Linked DNA regions of Homo sapiens. The protein of the gene in region 2 interacts with the protein of the main gene of each other region in a pairwise test. Each region holds a gene or a part of one and is shown on either strand. Other genes may lie near its edges.

Region 1 (7,021 bases), on a different chromosome or scaffold from region 2:
ATTTGTGTGTGTGTGTGTATTCAGAGTGCCAGGTACATAGTAGTTGTGCAATAAATATTAGCTACTTTTCCTCTTTTCTTTCTAAATTTTGATTTTGAGTCTTACCAACAAAACTAAAAAAACAAGCAAAAACTAAATATTAGATTTTTAGAAGCTTATAGGTACAAAAGTAATAAAATCAATTTTCAGTAGAAACTCAAATAGGTGAAAATCAAGTACGGTGTGAAACAATATCTAAGTAATTACATTTCTTCATAATTGAATACCAACAAAAAATCAGTTTTAAGCAAAACTCAGTGGATCGTCATTGATAGGAGTTTTATCTGCTGTTAATGCTGGATAAAATCCAAGAGCGGTTAGCACAACATCTTCATTTGACACACGAGGAAGTGGAGATTTAGCTCCCTGCAGATGACCTTGAGCACGTTTCTCATGCCTTCACTCCTGCTTCATGCAGTGCACTTGCAGTTCTCCATGTGTTCACCCCACACAGGCATTTCAGAATCCATTGGTTGGAACCGGTTTGTGCGTTCTGCAAATGAGATGACTGATGACACCCATCCTCTTGCAGTTGCCTGGGCTTGTCATCTTAGCCTTGCCCTGTGACTACCCTCATTCTCGCCATGGCCACTCAATCCACTGCCAAGCCCTGTAGCCCTTCCTCTTGCTGTGTTGCTCACAGTTCTTGCTTCCTGTTGGTCTCCACTAACACTTCCTCAGGTCAGGCCCTCACAATTTCTTTCTTGGCTAATTGTATTTTCACAACAATGAAAGTGCTGTTCTCTGCACCTTTAGTCTCTCCATTACGGCTTTGCAGTAAGTGGATAAGGCAGGCTCTGATACCAGATTGCCTATATTCAAATCCTGACCTTGGGCCTCTTCTCTGTAACTGGAAATCATAACATTACCCGCATGGTACTGTTAGGAGAAAACGAACATGTTATACATACAAAGGCTTCTCAACACCTACTAAATTGGTAGAAACGACTAAGCCAGTCTACTTTACTTCTCCAGGTTCTTTTATTCCACTAGTCCCCTTAAGAACAATGGTTTTTAGTCAAAATGGGCTGCTCATAGTTCTCTGAGCATATCTCACACTCTTCCAGCTTTCTTTTGCCCATGTTGTTCCCACAGTCTGCAGTGCCAACTGACCTTATTTTGTCTCCTCCAGTCATGATGTTGTTCTTCCTTATAACCATCCTAGAAAGCAGTTGGCTGATATGTATGAAGAGCCTTAAAAATTATCCTGCCTCTGGGCCGAGTTTGGCTGATCATGGCTGGGTTCTTTTACATATTTTGGGGTTGGTTAAATGTAGACTGGTCTTGGGTGGTGATATGGTTTGGCTCTGTGTCCCCACCCAATTCTCATCTCGAATTGTAATTCCCGTGTGTCTAGGGAGGGGCCTGGAATCCCCAAGTGTCAAGGGAGGGAAGTGATCAGGTCATGGGGTTGATTTCCCCCATGCTGTTCTAATGATAGTGAGTGATGGTTTTATAAGTGTTTGGAAGTTCCTCCTTTGTTCTTCTTCTCTCTCTTGCTGCCTTGTGAAGAAGGTCCTTGCTTCCCCTTCACCTTCTGCCATGTTTGTAAGTTTCCTGAGACCTCCCCAACCATGTGGAACTGTGAGTCAATCAAATCCCTTTCCTTTATAAATTACGCAGGCTTGGGTATTTCTTTACAGCAGTGTGAAAATGGACTAATGCAGGTGGCTTCAACCTGGACAACTGGGCTCTCTTACTACATGATCTCTCATTTTCTAGTAGACTAGCCTAGACCTGATTACATGGCAGCAGCAGGGTTCTCAGAAAGGCAAAGCAGAAAAGGTCTTTTGAAGTGTTGGCTTTAAACCAGATCCTCTTCCTTCCACCACATTCCATTGGCCAATGCAGACTGCAAGGCCAGTCCAGCTTCATGGATTAGGAAAGTCGATTTTGCCTCTTGATGGGCTGAACTTCCAAGTCACATTACAGCGGACATGGATAAGGGAGGGGTGAAGAATAGGGGGCATTTTTTTCCCCAATATATCCTACTAGAGATGGACAGAATTCCTACCTTTGAGGGTAGAACATGAAAATTAAGATCTGGCAGTACGGTGTAGTAGTTAAGGGCTCTGGAAACAGCAAGCAGACCCATCACTTACTGACTGGATCATCTCGGCAGATTATGCACATTTTCTATGCTTCAGTTTCCTTACTTCTATTTTTTAATTTTTATTTTGATTTTTTTTGAGACGGAGTCTCGCTCTGTCACCCAGGCTGGAGTGCAGTGGCGTGATCTCGGCTCACTGCAAGCTCTGCCTCCCAGGTTCACACCATTCTCCTGCCTCAGCCTCCCGAGTAGCTGGGACTACAGGCGCCTGCCACCACACCTGGCTGATTTTTTGTATTTTTAGTAGAGATGGGGTTTCGCCATGTTAGCCAGGATGGTCTTGATCTCCTGACCTCATGATCCGCCCACCTCAGCCTCCCAAAGTGCTGGGATTACCGGTGTGAGCCACCGAGCCCGGCCAGTTTCCTCACTTCTAAAATGAGAAGCATTCCTACATCGTGAGCTGTTGAGAGGATTGAATGAGTTAATATTTCTAAAGTGCTTAGAATCTCACTTGGCATAAAATGTGATATGAACTATTATTATTATTATATAAGGCAGGCAAAAGAACATCGTGTCCTGGGTCTGTGTTTTAGTCCCTGCTCAAGGAGCTGCATGCCTAACCCTAACCCTGTATATAATGATATATCATAATATATATGTGTCATGTTTTATCTATTCATCCATCAACGGACAATTGAATTATTTCCACTTTTTGGCAATTGTGAATAATACTGTTGAGTCTCAGCTTTCATTTCCCTTGAGTGTATGCTTAGGAGTGGATCTGAGGTTAAATATTAAGTATTTTGTGACTATAGGAAAAGCAAAGCAAAATATGAAGTCCAAATGTCCCCCTTCCTCTACCGTAGTTTCTCCTGAAACTACTGCCCAGAAATGTTTCTCTTGTCTGTCCCCATAATCCGAATTATGTAACTCTTCCTTATCATCTGTTGGAAAGCATTGCAATAGCTGGGCTACTTGTCTGCCTCACCTACTATATCTGTAAGCTCCTGGAAGGCTTGCTCATCTTTGCTTGCACAGTACCAGCCAGGTAGTGGTAGGCACTCGGTAAACATGAGTGAATGAGTGAATGACAGTTTCCGATTGCCTGTGTGTATTACAAAAACAACCCTCAAAAGAGGTCCAGGCCAGGCGTGGTGGCTCACACCTGTAATCCCAGCACTTTGGGAGGCTGAGATGGGCAGATCACTTGAGGTCAGGAGTTCGAGACCAGCCTGGCCAACATGGCAAAACCCCATCTCTACTAAAAATACAAAATTAGCCAGGTGTGGTGATGCATGCCTGTAATGCCAGCTACTCAGGAGACTGAGGCAGGAGAAATGCTTGGACCCAGGAGGCAGAGGTTGCTGTGAGCCGAGATCACACCACTGCACTCCAGCCTGGGCAAGTGACAGAGCGAGACTCCATCTCAAAAAAAAAAAGAAAGAAAGAAAGAAAGAAAGAAAGAAAGAAAGAAAGAAAGAAAGAAAGAAAGAAAGAAAGAAAGAAAGAAAGAAAGAAAGAAAGAAAAGAGGTGTCCATTTATTGATGCAACTCAGGACAGCTCCCACTGTCTTGTCTTTTCTTTTCTTTTCTTTTCTTTTCTTTTTTTTTTTTTTGAGACAGGGTCTTAGACTCTGTCATCAGACTGGAGTGCAGTGGTACAATCATGGCTCACTGAAGTCTTGGCCTTCTGGGGTCAAGTGATCCTCTCACCTCAGCCTTCTGAGCAGCGCAGCTGGGACTATAGGCATGCGCCATCATACCCAGCTAATTTTTTATTTTTTATTACAGAGATGAGGTCTCACTATGTTGCCCAGGCTGGTCTTGAACTCCTGGGCTCAAGCAATCCTCCCACCTAGGGTTTCCAAAGTGCTGGGATTACAGGTGTGGGCCACTTACGCCTGGCCTCCCACTATCTTTGTTTGAGAACTTTTGATATATACAAGAGGTCCATTCTTCCGTAAGGATGTATTTATGTCCTCAGCTGCAGACAAAGGATTCTGACCACTGGTGGTGTTGGAGCCTGTGGAGCTCAGTGGCCAACTTTGACCTTTGAACTTTAAAGAAGTTCTTAGTCCTTCAGTAGAGAACCTGGAAATAGAACTTCAAATTGTTCAGGTCTATCTGACATGTCTTGGTGGAAAACTGAAGGTCCTTTGCATTTAAGGCTTTGGAGACAGAACGGAGACTGAATTCATGAGACTTCATGCAAGCTTCCATGTCTCTATGTACTTTAATTTCCTTATCTATACAATGAAAATAATACTCACACATAGAGTTATTATGTAGATGAAAAGAGAAAATGTATATAAAAGCATGAGACATAACACCTAGCACATAGTGCTCAATAAATACTCATTATTATTGGAAGGCAGCAGACAAGGGTAACATTTATATTGAGGGATGGAAAATCGGGCCTTACGCTCTATTCTAGGGTCAAATCTGTTGGTATGATCTTATAGCTCACTCCGTGTCCATCTGGTTAGCTGGATAATTTTTTATTTCTTTCAGTCGGAAAGCAAGTGTATACTTTCATAGTTTTGAGGGTCAGAGTTCCTGATTTTATGGGATTTTTGAAATTAAAACAATTTATAATAACTTAATCTCCAATTGCAAAATGTTATTGACACTGCATTTTAATGTAATGTGTATATATGTAATTTCCCTGCTTTAAGGGAGGGTTCAAGACTGACCTGTTTGTCTAGACTTGCTGAATATGTCTCATTATTTTCTGTAATAGTTTGGAGATGATGATGCTATTCTTCTCAATGCAAGTGGAATCTTGTTATACTGAAGTTAGATTTTGCCAAAAATTTTCCTATACATGAAAAGTCAAGAGACTTACTTAGCCACATCCTCTGTTTATGCTACATTGGAATTTCATGGCTAAAAATACAAGGCGTGACTTTCCACTGTACTCACAGGCATTCACTGTGTGCTTTTCCACCTTTGCTGGTATTTGTAACAGTTGGCAGAGCACCAGGATAACCTCTTGCCATCCTTGACCAATATCATGATCACCATGGGCTTGAAAATTGTATAAACATGGAAGCAATCACATAGGTAATCAAGGATATAGAATCAGTCGGATATAAATCTCACTTTGCTTCCCATAATCATGAGTCTTACCTTTCTGCTGTTTGAGCCAAAGCCATTCAGTAGAGAAATGTTGTGCTGGTTCTCCAGAAGTTCAAGAGTAAAGTGATATAATATGGAATTCCATTCAGGACTTAGTAATATGGAGAGTCAAGGAATGTAGCACTATCATAGACTAAGAATTTGGAAAAAACTTTCTAAACAGCCTCTTTGTGGATACAGAGGTTTGAGAGCTGTGGCAAACTGCTTTTTTTCTTTTAAATTGCCTACTAGTCAGGAAGAAATCTTTGCTTAAAGTAAGCATTCTTAATAGGATAAAATAATTTTGGGTTTCATATGGAATAAAATATAAGCAAGAACTGCTAAGACAAGTTTGAAAAGGGAAATTTATGTGGAGGTATTTGCCCTACCATATATGAGAACACTGTAATTAGTCTAGTATTTGTTCAGGAAAAAAGAAAGTTATTTATCAATGAGCTAGAAGAGAATTTCCAGAAAATATTTTGTGTACACTTGGGCATTTAATAAATGATAAAGGTGACACTTCAGTATAGTGGAAAATGGTTTATTTTAGTAGATTATATTGACACACTTGCATCTCAATATATTAATAGAAAAAATGGATTAGTCTCATACCTGTTACCATGCAAAATATAAATTTTAAGTCAGTTGAAAATATAAGCATAAAAGTAAAAAGTAGAAGACAATATTTGAATGCCCTCGGATCAGGGTAGGTCTTTAAGATAAGAAACTCAGAAGCCATTAAAAAAACAGCTCTGACTATATAAATGTTAATTATGGCAAGTCATAAGCAAAGTCAAAGATATACACCATGCTTGGAAAAAATACTTGTATTATTCATGGTAATATGAGCCCTAATTTTAAAAGAACTCCTACAAGTTGAGAAGAAGTCTGACAAGCAAGATTGTTTAGAGAGGAGGACACAGAAGAAGCCACTTGACATGAAAGAAAGCACAACCTGATAGAATCCAGAGTGTCGGCTGGGTGCAGTGGCTCACGCCTGTAATCCCAACACTTTGGGAGGCCAAGGTGGGTGGATCACCTGAGGTCCGGAGTTCGAGACCAGCTTGGCCAACATGGTAAAACCCATCTCTACTAAAAATTAAAAAAAAAAAAAAAATTAGCCTGGTGTGGTGGCGGGTACCTGTAATCCCACCTATTCCAGAGGCTGGGGCAGAGAGAATTGCTTGAACCTGGGAGGCGGAGCTTGCAGTGAGTCAAGATCAGGCCACTGCACTCCAGACTGGGTGACAGAGTGAGCTCCAGCTAAAAAAAAAAAATAAAAAAAAAAAATAAGAGTGTAACAAGAGTGAGATCAATTTTTCAATGCTGGCATGACAATTAGAAGGGACTGATCACATCCGGAGTAGGCAAGATTGTGAAATGTAGCAATCTTTTTGGAAAGTAGTCTGAAAGTATATATTAAAACAAAAAACACAGACTTTTACATAGCAATTCCACCTTGGGAATTCACAGAAAGAAAAGAATCATTTCAAGTGAAGTATGTATGAGAGTGTTTATTATAACATTATTTATAATGGCAAAAAACTAAAAGCAACTGACCTATGGTTAATGAAGTGATTGAAGAAATTATGGCATATTTAGATTATGGCATATTTCGCAGTTCTTTAAAAGAATAAGTTTAAATGTATTGGTCTGAGAGGATGTCTGTGATAGATGAAGTGGGAAAAAAAGCAAACAAGTTGCAGAGTAAGGTATATTATAAGGTTCCTTTTTTTATTTTTAGAGACAGGGCCTCCTTCTGTCCCCAAAGCTGGAGTGTTGTGGTGTGAGCATAGCTCACTGCAGCCT
Region 2 (7,783 bases):
GGAAAATGACTCAGAACGGGTTGGGGATCAAATTCTTAAAGACAGATTGTGGGGAGAAGCTAGAAAAGAAGACCCAGAGAGTATGGAGGTTAATGTTGAGCAACCTGGGAACATGGACCACAGGGACAGGGTGTTCCATGAAGATGGAGAATCAGTAAGGGTGCCAGGAAAGCTGGACTGAAAGCAATGTGAGAGGAACTGAGTCTGCCAAGTCTGGGAGATGAGGGTCTGTGTAGAGCGGGCCAACTCCATGAACATACCTGGTACCATTTTCCCACCTTCTTGGGCAGAAGGAAAAGCAGAGGCAGGGTGATCAGGGTGACCATGGTGAGGGACACTGATCCCCAGAGCATGATCCCCAAGAGACATAGGCCTCGCACCAGGTACCACAGAAATAAGCTCAGATTCTCACTCAGAGAATCACTCAGGGTGGACGTGTCCTCTGTTACCCGAGACATGATGTTACCTGCAGGGTTGGGGAGAAGAGAGTGAGGTGAATCAGACAGGTTCCAAGTGATGAGACGAACTAACAATGAGCCAGGATGCCAGGGTCAGGGGTGTCAACATGGGGTTCTAAGGAGGCTGCAGGAAACAAGGTTAGGGTTCTCCAGAGGTCTGCAAATCTCAGTGCAGGGAAGATGAGTGTTAAAGAGGAAAGGCCTGACCTTCATTTTAATTATAAAGTCATTAATGCACATGTGAATTTCCATTTTCCTGAAAGCTTTCTGTTCCCTAGAGAACCTGTATGTCCCATGCTATACACACAGGCAGGAAGAGCTTAAACTGGTCACATAACAGAGATGGAGGAGGAGGGTGCTGCTAGGAAGCATGCCAAAGTCTGTGGAGCACTCACTGGGACTAGGGTTCTAACCCCAGGTCTATCTCTAGCCATATGTAACTGTACAGCTTCTAGTGCTGCTAGAAAGCATGCCGAAGTCTGTGGAGCACTCAAGAGACCAGGGTTCTAACCCCAAGTGTGTCTCTAGCCATATGTAACTGTGCAGTTTCAGCATTTAGGGTCTTGGCCTCAGTTTCCTTCTCTGTCAGATGAGGCAGTTGGTCTCTATGAGCTCAAAATTTCCAGGTTTGAAATTCTATGGTTTCTATCTAAGGATACATAGGAATAGATTTATAAGAAAATGCTAGATGAAAACTCTAGGTTTTTCTTAAGGTAAGGAGGACAATATTTTGCTCCTGAGGTATATCAAGAATGAGAAAAACAATTGTGTGTGTGTGTGTGTGAGAGAGAGAGAGAGAGAGACAGAGACAGAGAGAGAGAGACAGGGAGAGGGTATATCAAGAATGAGAAGGAACAATGTGTGTATGTGTGTGTGAGAGAGAGAGAGCGGGGAGGGGGGAGATCAAAGCAGATGTATGAGGATATGAACAGTACATGGCGTATAATGAAAGAGTTTCAGGAGAAACCTGTCTGGTTCTGTTGGAAAAACTCCGTCTCCTGGCGCAGGACAGCCCCAAACACCTCTCCCTGCAAGTGGCTGTGCACGTGGCCCATGGTGTTGTTATAGATCCCGTCACCCACGAACTCCAGCACTGCACTATAAAGAACCCGGAAAAAAAGGGGATCAGGGTGTGTTCAGGGAACAGACTGAAGGTCCCAGGTATCCCCATATAAGTGCATTTCGGACAGCAGCCCCAACTTCCAACTCCCTCATTTGCAGGGTGCCCCATTTTCAGCCCCCAGACCTGGCTATGGTGAGAATGGACATGAGAGTTAAGTTTCGAGTGAAGGTATCGGCTGAGCCATCTTGTAGAATCCAGTCAGTGAGGCGGCCCGTAAAGAATGGAATGGCCATCTCCCCTGGAGAAAGAGAAGAGAGGTCACGCACAAATATTAAGTCTAAGTAGGTCAGTTCCAGTCAGACTGGCCCCACCACGCCTCCTCCCCCTCACCATTATCCTGGAGGGCATCAGCAGAAAGGAAACACTGACGTCTCAATCCCGAACCTAAATAGGCTGCCCTGGAACTCACTACCCTGTGGTTGCTCTACCAGAACTTTCAGGATTTTATTAGGAAGGCTGGAGATCATGAAGTAGAAAAGCCTCCTGTTAGAGATGAGGATGCCCCGCCCTTCGGCCCCAGAGCAAAGGATTTCCCCGCTTCCGGCGTGGCCCAAAGAATCAAGACCCGGTCAGCAATGGAGCCCAGAACCTCTGGCCCCCGCCAGTCCAGTGCCGTTTCTTCTACACCGAAGTGGTGTTCCAAGACCCACGCTAGGAGTCCTTCTCCTGCTCCACATTTCCCAGAACCCACGCTACTCTACCTTACTGACAATTACCTTTGATTCCTGTCCCAGTCCCCTTGTGTCCTCCCCTCTTGCCCTGCGTTCCCCTTACCAAGAGAGGAGAGGACCACCAGGACCAGGAACAGCGAGAGGCGGCGCGTCTCCGAGCCCAGGCAGCCTAGAAGCCGACGCACAGGGTTTCCAGAGCCGCCCTGACCGCCGGGCACCCAGAGGCTCCCGAGTTTGTGCCACAGGGCTGCTGCGGGCAGTGCCGCTGCATAACTGACAACGAAGGCGGTAGGGTGACTTCCCCAGTGCAGTAGCCTGGTGCTATCCGCGGACCCGGGGGCTCCCCATGAGATCAGCTCTCGGAACAAGGCAAGTCCCGGCAGGGCCAAGCCCAGTGCCGCAGCTAATGGCTTCAAAGCAGCCAGCCAGCCCTGGGCACCTGCGTTTTCGCTCTTGGAGCCAACCGTTGCCCTGAGGACCCCGCAGGCCCCCAGCCAGAGCACGGCCCAGCGGCTCAGGCCCACCGCCCAGACCCGGAGCAGTGGCAGCGCGGTGGGCACCAGCAGGGAGAATATGCGGGGCAGCGCGGTCCGGAGCAGCACCCAGTCGGCGAGAAGTAGCAGTACTGTCCCCAGCCATGCGAGAGAAGCTCCGGGGAGGCAGCGGCACCCGCGGGGAGCGGGACACCTAGAGCTAGCCATTGGCACTCGGACGCCGTCCCGGTCCCGGCCGGGCCTGGGACTCTCCGCGCCCCGGTGGGGCCTGAAGCTCCGGGTACCGCCGAGTCCTCCCCTACTGGCGGCTGGGGGAGGGAACGAGGGCGGGGCTCTCGGAAAGTCCCAGGAACAGGCTGATCCTGCGCTGGCGAGAAGCTCAGCCATTTAGGGGAAAGCGAAATCGAAAGCGGCCGCCTGCTCACTAGATAACGCCTACTTCCAAAAGTGGCCTGCCCAGACTATTTTGGTAGCAAGCGTGGAAATCAGATCTGAGAATCTCGGGAGCAGCCCTGGTGCCCAATTTTCTCCATCACGCACACCCTTCTCGCCTCTCCCTGCCTCCTGCCTTTCCACTTGCACCAGTTTTCCCACCCCAGCCTCAGGGCGGGGCTGCCTCGTCACTTGTCTCGGGGCAGATCTGCCCTACACACGTTAGCGCCGCGCGCAAAGCAGCCCCGCAGCACCCAGGCGCCTCCTGGCGGCGCCGCGAAGGGGCGGGGCTGTCGGCTGCGCGTTGTGCGCTGTCCCAGGTTGGAAACCAGTGCCCCAGGCGGCGAGGAGAGCGGTGCCTTGCAGGGATGCTGCGGGCGGGAGCACCAACCGGGGACTTACCCCGGGCGGGAGAAGTCCACACCGGGGTAATGGGTCTGGGCTTGAGGGTTGGCAGAGGGGTGGAGGAGATGCAGCGGCCAGGGGACCCTGGAAGCGCGCGCGGAGAAGTGAATGCAGAGACCAACGGGAGCGCAGGGAGGTCGCCTGTAGCAGCCAGCGCTTGCAACCCGCAATGAGCATAGAGTATTTCTTTTCTGAGGGGGGTCGTCTAGAGTGTCCGTGAAGGGAACAGGCACGCGAGGCTGGTGGAAAAAGCGGGTGCTTTGACTCTTAGCTGGAAGCGTCAACGGGAAGCTACTCTAAAGCGCTTTCGCTTTCACTCTGGTCCCGGACAGTGGGGGCTGGTTAAATCAAGAAAGGGGGTTGGGGATGGTGCAAAGAGATGAGGAAATGGTGCCCTGGGTGAAGTAGAACAGCACTTGGGAGAAGGAAATATAGGCACTTATTGAGAAGGACCAACTCATCACACAGACTTTTGATAAACTTGCCACTGGGCAACTCTTAGCCCAAGCACTGATAATGGGCGTTCTGTGTTAACTAGTGATGCCCTTCCCTAGCTTGACCCAGGAAGGCCTCTCCTTGGCCCAGATGCTGCCTTACTCCCTTCCCTGTGTCTTCCCTGCCCACTCCCATGTGCCCACTGGGGGGACTTTGCTTAGGATGGGCGCCTGGGGCAGATGGCAGCCCCAAGACTGGCTGGCTGGCTTCTGCTCTGGACTACTGCCACCACTCGTGGCTTGGGGGCGGCTTTGTTAGAGAGGAATAGCCTCTAACTTGAAGTTAACCCTGTTCTTTGACCCTCTATTCATGATAAGTCGGTCCGTCGGAAAGCATACTCAGAGGAGCGTCCTTTGGGGCCAGAGTAACTTACGGCCTGGTAAGAAAGACACAGTGAAACCACTTATAATTTGGGAAATCTCCCCTCACTGCCAAATGAGCAGTGGCAAGTAGGAAGTAGAAGTGGAAACAAGGGATAAGAGTTAGACCTGAATTTTAGTCCCAGGTCTACTATTAACTCTGTGTGACTTTGCATAAGTCGTTTGCATTTTCTGTGACTTGGTTTCCTCATTTGAACCGAGGATCTTTAAGGCTCCTTCCAACTCAATAGTAGAATAAATGTAGCTTTATCTTCCCTCACTTCTTCTTGATTCTTTTCTTGACCTGGAAAAGTCAGCTTAAACTTCTCAGTCAAATTATCTCTTGGTACAAATTTACCTCCCTGGCTGCTGAGATATGTATTTACCTCTTGATCGGAAATTCCATAACTGAAACTTTTATTTTCAACCATCTGTATGTGTTCCTTGCTGCTTCTCTCCTGCCTTGCCCCTGGCCATGCTAACCACTGCCCTCCTCGATTTTTTCCAATGTTCAGTAAATTGGAAGAGCTCACTTCTGATGAAATGGGGGGTGAGAGTGGAGGATTGTGGACCAAAAAAAAAAAAATAGACTGACCTTGTTTCCCAAGATCATAGTCAATTACTCTGTGTTGGGTCTACACCACATCTGCACATACTATGAGCCCTTCCGTTGGAGATAATTTTCACTTGCGGAGCTGCTTCACTTCTACCTGTAGGAGCCTCATCTCCACCTCTCTACAGTGGAGAGGATTCCACTAGGCAAGTTGGAACTTAGGGACACAGTTCTTTCTGTGTTGTATCACAGCTGGGCTGTGGCATTCCCCTGCAGCCGGATGAAGCAATAGAGAAAGTGGAAAGATGAAGGGAAAAAAAGCCTGTACTGACAGTCAGCTCTGGCCTGTTACTGTGTAATCTTTGAGCCAGTCACTTCGCCTCTCTGGGAATGTTTCTTCTTCTCTAACATGAGGGCATCAAGGCTGTTCTTGCCCTGACATTCCATATTCTGTGTCTCTGCAGACCACCATCATGGCAGTGGAGTTTGACGGGGGCGTTGTGATGGGTTCTGATTCCCGAGTGTCTGCAGGGTGAGTAAAAGTGAAGATGTATGCATTTGGAAAGAAGCTAATGGCCTCAAATACACACTTTCCTTACCCATTCATGAAAAGACTGGCAAACTGGAGCCTTGGAGGAATGGAGTTGACCTTCCCCAAAAGCCACTATGATAAGCTATTTGGTGGGTGCTTGGGTCTCTGAATTTGTGGAGGAGGATCTGGGGTCTGAATGTGTATGTGACCTGTCCCAGTAGTGTACAGGGATGAGTAAAGGAATAGGGTCTGAGAGGGGGACAGGAGATAGATTTTTGAGGGTCTTCTTTCCATCTGTGCTTAGGGATCAAAAAGATGATTCTGTCAAGCAGATACCTGGTTTCTCATTTACCATATATTGAACTATTTTGTCTCTTCTCCCACTCCTAACCAATTTCCTCACATGCAAAATGAGTATATGGGGTTAGGTCAATATTACTGACATTATGTTCCATAGAACATAACTCTCTCAAGATTGTTAATAGCAAAGAAAATTGATGAGGCATATTTTTCTTACCTTAGCATTTTTTGCTTTGTTATAAAATCTAAGCCTGAAAAATAAGCCTAATTTTGATTAACATCTGCAGTGATTAATAATATCTGAGATGATTATTTGCCTCCTGCTTTAATCCAAGCATTAAACTTCATGCTATTCTCTTGTCAAAGAAATTTGAGAGACATTGAATGATCACCCTCAAAAATTCCTGAGTTCTGGTTGGGTGCAGTGGCTCACATCTATAATCTCAGCACTTTGGGATGCCGAGGTGGGCAGATATTTGAGGTCAGGAGTTTGAGACCAGCCTGGCCAACATGTTGGGACCTTGTCTCTACTGAAAATACAAACATTAGCTGGGCTTGGTGGTGGGTGCCTGTAATCCCAGCTATTCGGGAGGCTGAGGCAGGAGAATCACTTGAACCAGGGAGGCGAAGTTTGCAGTGAGCCCAAGATTGATCCACTGCACTCCAGCCTGGGTGACAGAGTGAGACTGTCTCAAAAAAAAAAAAAAAAAAAAAAACCTGAGTTTTAACTTGGTGACTGTTGACTCCCTCCTGACAGCGAGGCGGTGGTGAACCGAGTGTTTGACAAGCTGTCCCCGCTGCACGAGCGCATCTACTGTGCACTCTCTGGTTCAGCTGCTGATGCCCAAGCCGTGGCCGACATGGCCGCCTACCAGCTGGAGCTCCATGGGTATGAAGCTCTGGAGTTCTGACTCCCCACCCACTAGAGCTCCCCCAACCTGCATGAATCCCTGTACAGTGTGCTGTTCCAGGAGCTGGACACTGGGAAATGGAAAAGTCTTGTTTCGGCTCTTGCTGGCACTTGAATCTGTCAGTTTCTGCATCTGTAAAGTGGAGATAATATAGTACCTCATGAGACGGTTATTTTGAGAACCACATTCTATATGTGAACACAGTTTAAAAGCTGTAAATCACTATCCTGATATAAATAATCAGGAAGAAGGTGATATTGTGACCCACCATAATATCAGGCAGTTACCATACGAGAAATCAAGGTCGTTGGGACGGAAGTAACCTTATCTGCTTTTCCCCATAAGAGCAGGGTCCTTGCAGCCAAAAGAAAGTTATGTGGGTGGGGCTGAGCAAAAGAGTGAGCAATTGAAAGCTTCTTACCAGTTGGTGGTGTGGGACTCTGGTTCCCCTGTACATGTGGGAGGGAGGCTGCAGTTTGAGCTATTGCAGTTACAGTTTTCAGGGGTCGTTTAGCAGGGATGATGGTAACAGTATAGGAGAATGAGACTTAAAATTCTATCAACCTTTATTCCTAATATTTCCCTCAGGATAGAACTGGAGGAACCTCCACTTGTTTTGGCTGCTGCAAATGTGGTGAGAAATATCAGCTATAAATATCGAGAGGACTTGTCTGCACATCTCATGGTAGCTGGCTGGGACCAACGTGAAGGAGGTCAGGTGAGTTTCTCCCAAAGCACTCTCTCCTCTGGGCTTCCCCACTCTCCTGCAGAGGAAGATGGAAGTCCTATGTCATTCTAGCAATGAGTTCCAAGGACACTACCTCTGAAAGCATAGTACTTTGGGGATATGAGATACCAGGGCTTCATTGCAGGGTGCAGAGACCACTTAATGTCTCAGTGGGAAGGAAGGGCTTGATGATTCTTTAACCTGAGGATCCCTTTCCCAGGTATATGGAACCCTGGGAGGAATGCTGACTCGACAGCCTTTTGCCATTGGTGGCTCCGGCAGCACCTTTATCTATGGTTATGTGGATGCAGCATATAAGCCAG
Region 3 (7,183 bases), on a different chromosome or scaffold from region 2:
TAATCCCAACACTTTGGGAGGCCAAGGCGGGTGGATCACCTGAGGTCAGGAGTTTGAGACCAGCCTGGCCACGATGGTGAAACCCTGTCTCTACCAAAAATACAAAAAGTAGCCGGGTGTGGGGGCAGGCGCCTGTAACCCCAGCTACTCAGAAGGCTGAGGCAGGTGAATCACTTGAAGCCGGGAGGCAGAGGTTGCAGTGAGCTGAAATCGCACCATTGCACTCCAGCCTGGGTGACAGAGCGTGACTCAAAAAAAAAAAAAAAAAAAAAGTAGATCCCCGCGTGGCACCAGCCCTTCTGCCACAGCTGCCATTGGAGAGCAGCAGCCATGGCTCTGTGCTACCCACTATGGCCGTGTGCCTTGACAAGGGCCACAAGATGACCAAGAACATGAGCAAGCCCAGGCACAGCTGCCGCCGCGGGCGCCTGACCAAACACCAAATTCATGTGGGACATGATCCGAGAGGTGTGTGGTTTCGCCCCGTATGAGCGGCACGCCATGGTGTTACTCAAGGTCTCCAAGGACAAACGGGCCCTCAAGTTCATCAAGAAAAGAGTGGGGACGCACATCCGCACTAAGAGGAGGCAGGAGGAGCTGAGCAATGTCCCAGCCATCATGAGGAAAGCTGATGCCAAGAAAGACTGAGCCCCCTGTCCTGCCCTCTCTCTGAAATAAAGAACACCTTGACAGAAAAAAAATAAATTTAAACAACAAATAAGTAGGCCAGGCGCAGTGGCTCATGCCTGTAATCCCAGCACTTTGGAAGGCTGAGGCGGGTGGATCACAAGGTCAAGAGATCAAGACCATCTGGCCCAACAAGGTGCAACCCCGTCTCTACTAAAAATACAAAAAATTAGCTGGGCATGGTGGCACAGGCCTGTAATCCCAGCTACTCGGGAGGTTGAGGCAGGAGAATCACTTGAACCTGGGAGGCGGAGGTTGCAGTGAGCCAAGATCGCGCCACTGCACTCCAGCCTGGGCGACAAAGTGAGACTCTGTCTCAAGATAGACAGATAGATAGATAGATAGATAGATAGATAGATAGATAGATAGATAGATAGTAGATTCTTCAGTGCCCCATCAATCCTTAGATGACTGCAACCTCGTGAGATACCCTAATCCCGAATCACCCAAACAAGCCACTCCTAAATTCCTGACCCAGGGAAACTGAAAAAACACATTTTTATTGTATCAAACTACTAACTTTTGGAGTACTTTGTTACACAGCAGTGGATATCCAATAGCCACTCCTCCCTCCCACCAAAAAAACCTTCTCCTCCAGTCATCTCCATCTCAAGTCATTCATTTGCTCAGGCTGAAAGCGTTGGAATCAACAACCATGACTTTGCTCTCCTCCACTCCACATCCAGTCCTATAGCAAATTATGTTGGTTCCACTGGTGTCCTGCATTAATCTGCTGAAACAACGAATGATAAAACTCCCCACCAGAGTAATCTCTAAGGTGTTAGAAATCCCAGCTTTGAGGACAGTTTGCTGTGGTGGGAAACTGAGTTAACGAAGGGAATTGGGAAGCCACCAAGATAAAGGAAAGGAAGGTAAAAGTGGGTACCCACTCTGTACCAGGCATTTTACACATATGACTTCATTTGATCTTACAATTCCATGTGGTTGGTACTACTGTTTTATTACCACTTTCTAGCTGAAGCTCACAGACTGCAGGAGACAAAGCTAGATGTGAACCCAGGCAATCTGACTTGAGAACCTAAATTCTCATTAAACCACCTGCATTCCAAAGGGGAAGAGCATTAAGGGCTGAATTAAGCCAATGGGCTGGGAAAGCAAACACTCAAAGAAGCCTGGGTCCATCTAGACAGTTCTACCAAGGCAAGAGCACATAAGACCTATCTTCAAACCTCTGGTATTCAAACTACCATCTGCAGGTATTGAGGACCTCTGAGAATAATAGCCAGGTAGATTACCTGACTCGATATGTATAGAGGATTTTAGCTCACTCTGACTCTTACTAGCTGGGGGACCCTAGGCAAGTCACTTGACTTCTCTAGCTCTTAGTTGTTTAATGTATCACTATGCCTGCCACAGTTCACTTGCTAGCAGATAGGCTTGGGTACATCCAGCTTTGGGATCTGAGACCCGGCCCCCTCCCCTGGTTACCATGCCGCTCAGCCTCTGAGCTCACGGGGATGCCATCTTTATCTAGTCGTTGCTTGAACAGGTTGTGTTCCACATCCAGCTGCTGTTCTCCGGCCACATCCATGGCATCAATACTCAGATCTGGAAGCAGGAAAATCAGGCTAAGGTACTGGGACCCTAGGGACAAGGGGATGTGGGTTTTGGAGGGGAAGGGGATACTGGGCCTGTCTTGGGGCAGAACGGGATGAGGAGAAGGAGGTTGTCCTGGGGTCCAGTCCAGAACCTAAGGGTGGAGGTGTGAATCTGGCAGCCCACATGAGAACCCTGGGTCTCTCCAGTCCCACCCATGGTGAGGTACTCACAGGCACAAGGCATGTGCGGAAAAAGTACATCGATGTTGATCTTCAGTTTATCTCCCCGCGACTTGTCCACGTAGAGCTCAGGATGCACCTGGGGCAGCGCTACCTCAGTAAGACTTAGCCCCAAACCTCTCCTTCCCCACTCCCACCCCTAAAGGTCCTACTCCTAGAATGCCAAGCCCCGCCCACGCACTAAGCCCCGCCCCTTACCTCCGTGGTGAGGTAATACTGCAGCTCGGACAGGAACAGTAGCAGCATGAGAAGGCCACTGACAATGGTCACTGCAGGACAAGGGGCGAGGGTCAGAATGGCCTCGAATCCGCTCCCTCAGACACCGGCAGGCCAGTCAGAGTCCAGGAGCCCGGGCTAAGCTCTAGGACGCCCCCCTCCACGCGACCCCGGCCCCGCTGCGGCCTACCGGTGGCGCCCCCGCAGGTCTTGACCCGGAAGTCCTCCAAAGTCTTGGGGTAGGCATCGAACTGCTTCAGCTTCCCCAGCGCCTCCATGGGGACCGGCCGGAAAGGGGACGCCAGCCGGCCCGCCCCTACAGACTCCCTCTTCCGGCCTGGAGCCACGCCCCCCTCTTTTTCCTCACGCAGGCGCAGCAAACCGCACGCTTGGCCCCACCTTTAGCCGCGTTCTCTTACAGGCGGCCCCGCCCAACGATGCTGCCACGCCCCCTTGCGCGGGCAATTGGGTCTGGAAGCTACTGCCCCGGCCTCCGCTGTCCGGGGCGGGATTTTGAGGACTGGGGTGCGAGGAGTTCTCTGCGGGGTTAGAAACGCTAATAGCACCGTTCGTGTGCCTTGTGCTCGGAACTGCACCAGGTGTTTAAGACTCTTGGAACATCTTGGAATATCCTGGAACAGTGGTTTTTCGAGTGTACCGGACCGGCCGCATCATTATCAACTGATTACCTATTAGAAATGCAAATAATTGATTCCCACCTACTGAAGCCGAAACGCTAGGAATGGCATCGGATGATTCTGATGTAAAGTAAGGGTGTCCGCCCTGAAAGCAGGTGTGACTTATCTCCGTTTTCCAAAGAGCAAACTGTGACCTGGAGAAGTTAAATAACTTGCCCAAGATCACAGCCAATTAATAGCAGGACCTGCTTCCAGCCCAGTTCTTCTGGACCTCAAAGTACTCTGGGAATCAGGGTCTTTTGGGTTGATTTTACCTAAACAGCGTCCCAGTGCTTCTCCTGAGCGCTGCTTTCTGAATATTACCCTAAATTGCTCTCCAGGCCCTGGGATCCTCACGGACACGCTCTATCCCTCCAGGTTTAGACTCAAGTGATATGGAGCTTAAGCTCTCCCTGACACTTCCCATTGCAGCCCAGTGTCTCTAGAGGGACAGCTCCCACAGTAATGCAGCTGCAATGAGTAAGATATAAAAGCTCATAGGCTTTCATACAGGAATTCCACTTTAGGAAGTAAAAGCACCATGTCAAGGTTAATAGAAAAATTTTGAAAAAGAAAAAATATGTAAGCAGCTATCCAAGGTTAACAGAAAAAAATTTTAATATAAGGATAAAAGTACCATGATCTGGGTGGTTGTTACACCTTAAGATATTGAATCTGTCTCTTAAAGATTTTAAGTGCACCACATCATAAAGATGTATGCATGAGATTGTTCAATGGCAAAAATCTGGAACCAGCCAGAATGCCCACTGATACATTAAATAAATTGAATAAATCACGATACACCCATTCTATGGAATATTAGGCCACTTTTCAAAAGAATGAGGTAGATTTACTCCTTTAGGTATACTAAGAATGTATTTTTAAGGGGGAAAAGATGCAAAGTAATGTGCATTCCATCATTCCATTTTTTAATTAAAAATTGGGCTGGGCACAATGGCTCACACCTGTAATCACAGCACTTTGGGAGACCGAGGAGGATCACATGAGGCCAGGAGTCTAAGACCAGCCTGGGCAACACAGCAAGACCCCACTCTACAAAAACTTTAAAAACTACATCTGTAACCCTAGCACTTCAGGAGGCCGAGCCAGGAAGCATCACTTGAGTTCAGGAGTTTGAGACCAGCCTGGTCAACATGGTGAAACCCCATCTCTACTAAAAATACAAAAATTAGCCAGGCGTGGTAGTGTGCTCCTGTAAACCCAGCTACTTGTGAGTCCGAGGCAGGAGAATCGCTTGAACCTGGGAGGCGGAGGTTGCAGTGAGCCGAGATCATGCCATTGCATTCCAGCCTGGGCGACAGAGTGAGATTCTGTCTCCAAAAATAAAAATAAAAATAAAAAAATTAGCCAGGTGTGGTGGCATGCGTCTATAGTCTCAGCTACCTGGGAGGCTGGGGTTGAGCCCAGGAGAGTTTGAAACTGCAGTTGTTACCAGGTTACCTGCAGTTGTTACCAGCATAGAGTTGTCCAGGTTCTTGGCGTGTTGAACAAAACACATAAAGTAACAGAAGGGCAACGAAAGACAAACAGCAACAGAAGAACGGAATAACAAAAGCATAGATTTATTGAAGACGATTCATAGCGGCAGCTGGTTAGAGCAAGCTGCTCAAGAGCCTCCTCAATCAGGGTTTGTATTAAGCTAAAGGGACCTGGCAACACCCCTAGGTGCCCTTTAGAAGCCTCCAGTTGGCTACACCTATGAAGGATTGGCCTGCGACCAAATCAGAGGCTGAAGTGGAGACTTGGCCCACAGCCAATCAGAGGCTGAAGTGGAGATTTGGCCCCACGGTCAATCGGAGGCGGAAGTGGAAACTTCTGTCTCGTTATCATAGGATTGAAGATGTGGCCTGTATGCTGCCTAGAACTGGCTGCACCCCTTCATTTGCTTATGTCTTAACCCCCGGTTACCCTGATTCCCTGTTCTCCTGCCTCATAGTGAGCTGTGATTACACCACTGCACTACAGCCTGGGCGACAGAGCGAGTCTCTCTCTCTCTCTTTGTGTGTGTGCATATATATATATATAATATATATAAACTGTTATATATATTATATATATAAACTTATATATATTATATATATAAACTGTTATATATTTTATATATATAAACTGTTATATATATTATATATATAAACTGTTATATATATTATATATATAAACTGTTATATATATTATATATATAAACTGTTATATATATTATATATAAACATATATATAAACTTATATATATTATATATAAACTTATATATATTATATATATAAACTGTTATATATAAACTTATATATATTATATATAAACTGTTATATATAAACTGTTATATATAATATATAAACTTATATATTATATATATAAACTGTTATATATATTATATATATAAACTGTTATATATATTATATATATAAACTGTTATATATATATATATAAACTGTTATATATATTATATATATAAACTGTTATATATATATATAAACTGTTATATATATTATATATGTAGTTATATATAAATTGTTATATATGTAAAACATAGGCCGGGCGCTGTGGCTCACGCCTGTAATCCCAGCACTTTGGGAGGCCGAGGCGGGCGGATCACGAGGTCAGGAGATCAAGACCATCCTGGCTAACATGGTGAAACCCTGTCTCTACTAAAAATACAAAAAATTAGCCGGGCGTAGTAGCGGGCGCCTGTAGTCCCAGCTACTCGGGAGGCTGAGGCAGGAGAATGGCGTGAACCTGGGAGGTGGAGCTTGCAGTGAGCCGAGATTGCCCCACTGCACTCCAGCCTGGGCGACAGAGCCACACTCCGTCTCAAAAAAAAAACAAAAAAAAAAACCTAAATAAAAAAAAAATCTATCTATATATAAAAATCTTAATCTTATATGGGGGAATATGTATTTGTATAATCATGAGAAAAGATTTGGAAGGACTCATGCTACAACTTTGGGGACAACTGGAGGAGGACTTTTCACGGAAGCCAAAGTTTTTGGGTCTCCCTCAGCTAACAGGGTGGCAGAGGACACCTGGGATCTCCCTCTATTATCTGGGCTTCAGATTCCTGAGAGCACCAAGAATTCTATCAGAAATAGGTAATAAGGAATCTGCTGATGGAATTAAGTCTAAAGCTCTGCTACCCTAAGTGGGATCCTTGAACCAGAAACATTGGCCTTATCTGGGAACCTGTTAGAAATGCAGAATCCCAGTCCCCACCCCAAACCTGCAGAATCAGAATCTGCATTCTAACAAGACTCTCCAGATAATTAGCATGCACATTAAAGTGTGAGAAGTACTTTCCTGAAAGGTTCCTTGTTTTATTGCCCACATAGGACCAAAACCAGCAGCACAGGAAAAAAAAAATCTGAGTGCCTCAAATATTGCACTAAGCCCAGGCGCGGTGGCCCATGCCTGTAATCTCAGCACTTTGGGAGGCCAAGGCAGGTGGATCACTTGAGGTCAGGAGTTTCAGACCAACCTGGCCAACATAGCAAAATCCCATCTCTACCAAAAAATACAAAAACTTAGCTGGGTGTGGTGGCGGGTGCCTCTAATCCCAGCTATTCGGGAGGCTGAGGTGGGAGAATCGCTTGAACCCAGGGGTGGGGGGCAGAGGTTGCAGTGACCCGAGACCATGCCACTGCATTCCAGCCTGGGTGACAGAGTGAGACCCTGTATCAAAAATACTTTAAAAAAAAGGCCAGGGGTGGTGGCTCACGCCTGTAATCCCAACACTAGGGGAGGCCGAGGAGGCCAGATTACCTGAGGTCAAGAGTTCAAGACCAGCCTGGCCA

Evidence for each region. Proteins that work in one complex are often made in the same cells at the same time.
Region 1: the proteins of TAP1 (region 2) and SLC10A6 interact in binary tests that used the Homo sapiens proteins (3 or more experiments, as listed by UniProt).
Region 3: the proteins of TAP1 (region 2) and ERGIC3 interact in binary tests that used the Homo sapiens proteins (3 or more experiments, as listed by UniProt).

Annotation. Positions count from the first base shown.
Region 1 is NC_000004.12:86,839,385-86,846,405, reverse strand, and holds part of SLC10A6 (sodium-dependent organic anion transporter), read left to right. Parts: intron 1-7,021. UniProt on the Homo sapiens protein: Transports sulfoconjugated steroid hormones from the extracellular compartment into the cytosol in a sodium-dependent manner without hydrolysis.
Region 2 is NC_000006.12:32,850,684-32,858,466, forward strand, and holds the start of TAP1 (antigen peptide transporter 1), read right to left. Parts: upstream 3,022-7,783; 5' UTR 2,954-3,021; coding exon 2,356-2,953; intron 2,079-2,355; exon of another isoform or gene 1,912-2,078; intron 1,820-1,911; coding exon 1,705-1,819; intron 1,557-1,704; coding exon 1,426-1,556; intron 467-1,425; coding exon 261-466; intron 1-260. Other genes in the region: PSMB9 (proteasome subunit beta type-9 precursor), read left to right, coding at 3,547-3,606, 5,455-5,522, 6,580-6,711, 7,322-7,451, 7,681-7,783. UniProt on the Homo sapiens protein: ABC transporter associated with antigen processing. In complex with TAP2 mediates unidirectional translocation of peptide antigens from cytosol to endoplasmic reticulum (ER) for loading onto MHC class I (MHCI) molecules.
Region 3 is NC_000020.11:35,537,895-35,545,077, reverse strand, and holds the start of ERGIC3 (endoplasmic reticulum-Golgi intermediate compartment protein 3), read right to left. Parts: upstream 3,001-7,183; 5' UTR 2,981-3,000; coding exon 2,893-2,980; intron 2,756-2,892; coding exon 2,685-2,755; intron 2,566-2,684; coding exon 2,478-2,565; intron 2,257-2,477; coding exon 2,137-2,256; intron 696-2,136; exon of another isoform or gene 296-695; intron 1-295. UniProt on the Homo sapiens protein: Possible role in transport between endoplasmic reticulum and Golgi. Positively regulates trafficking of the secretory proteins SERPINA1/alpha1-antitrypsin and HP/haptoglobin.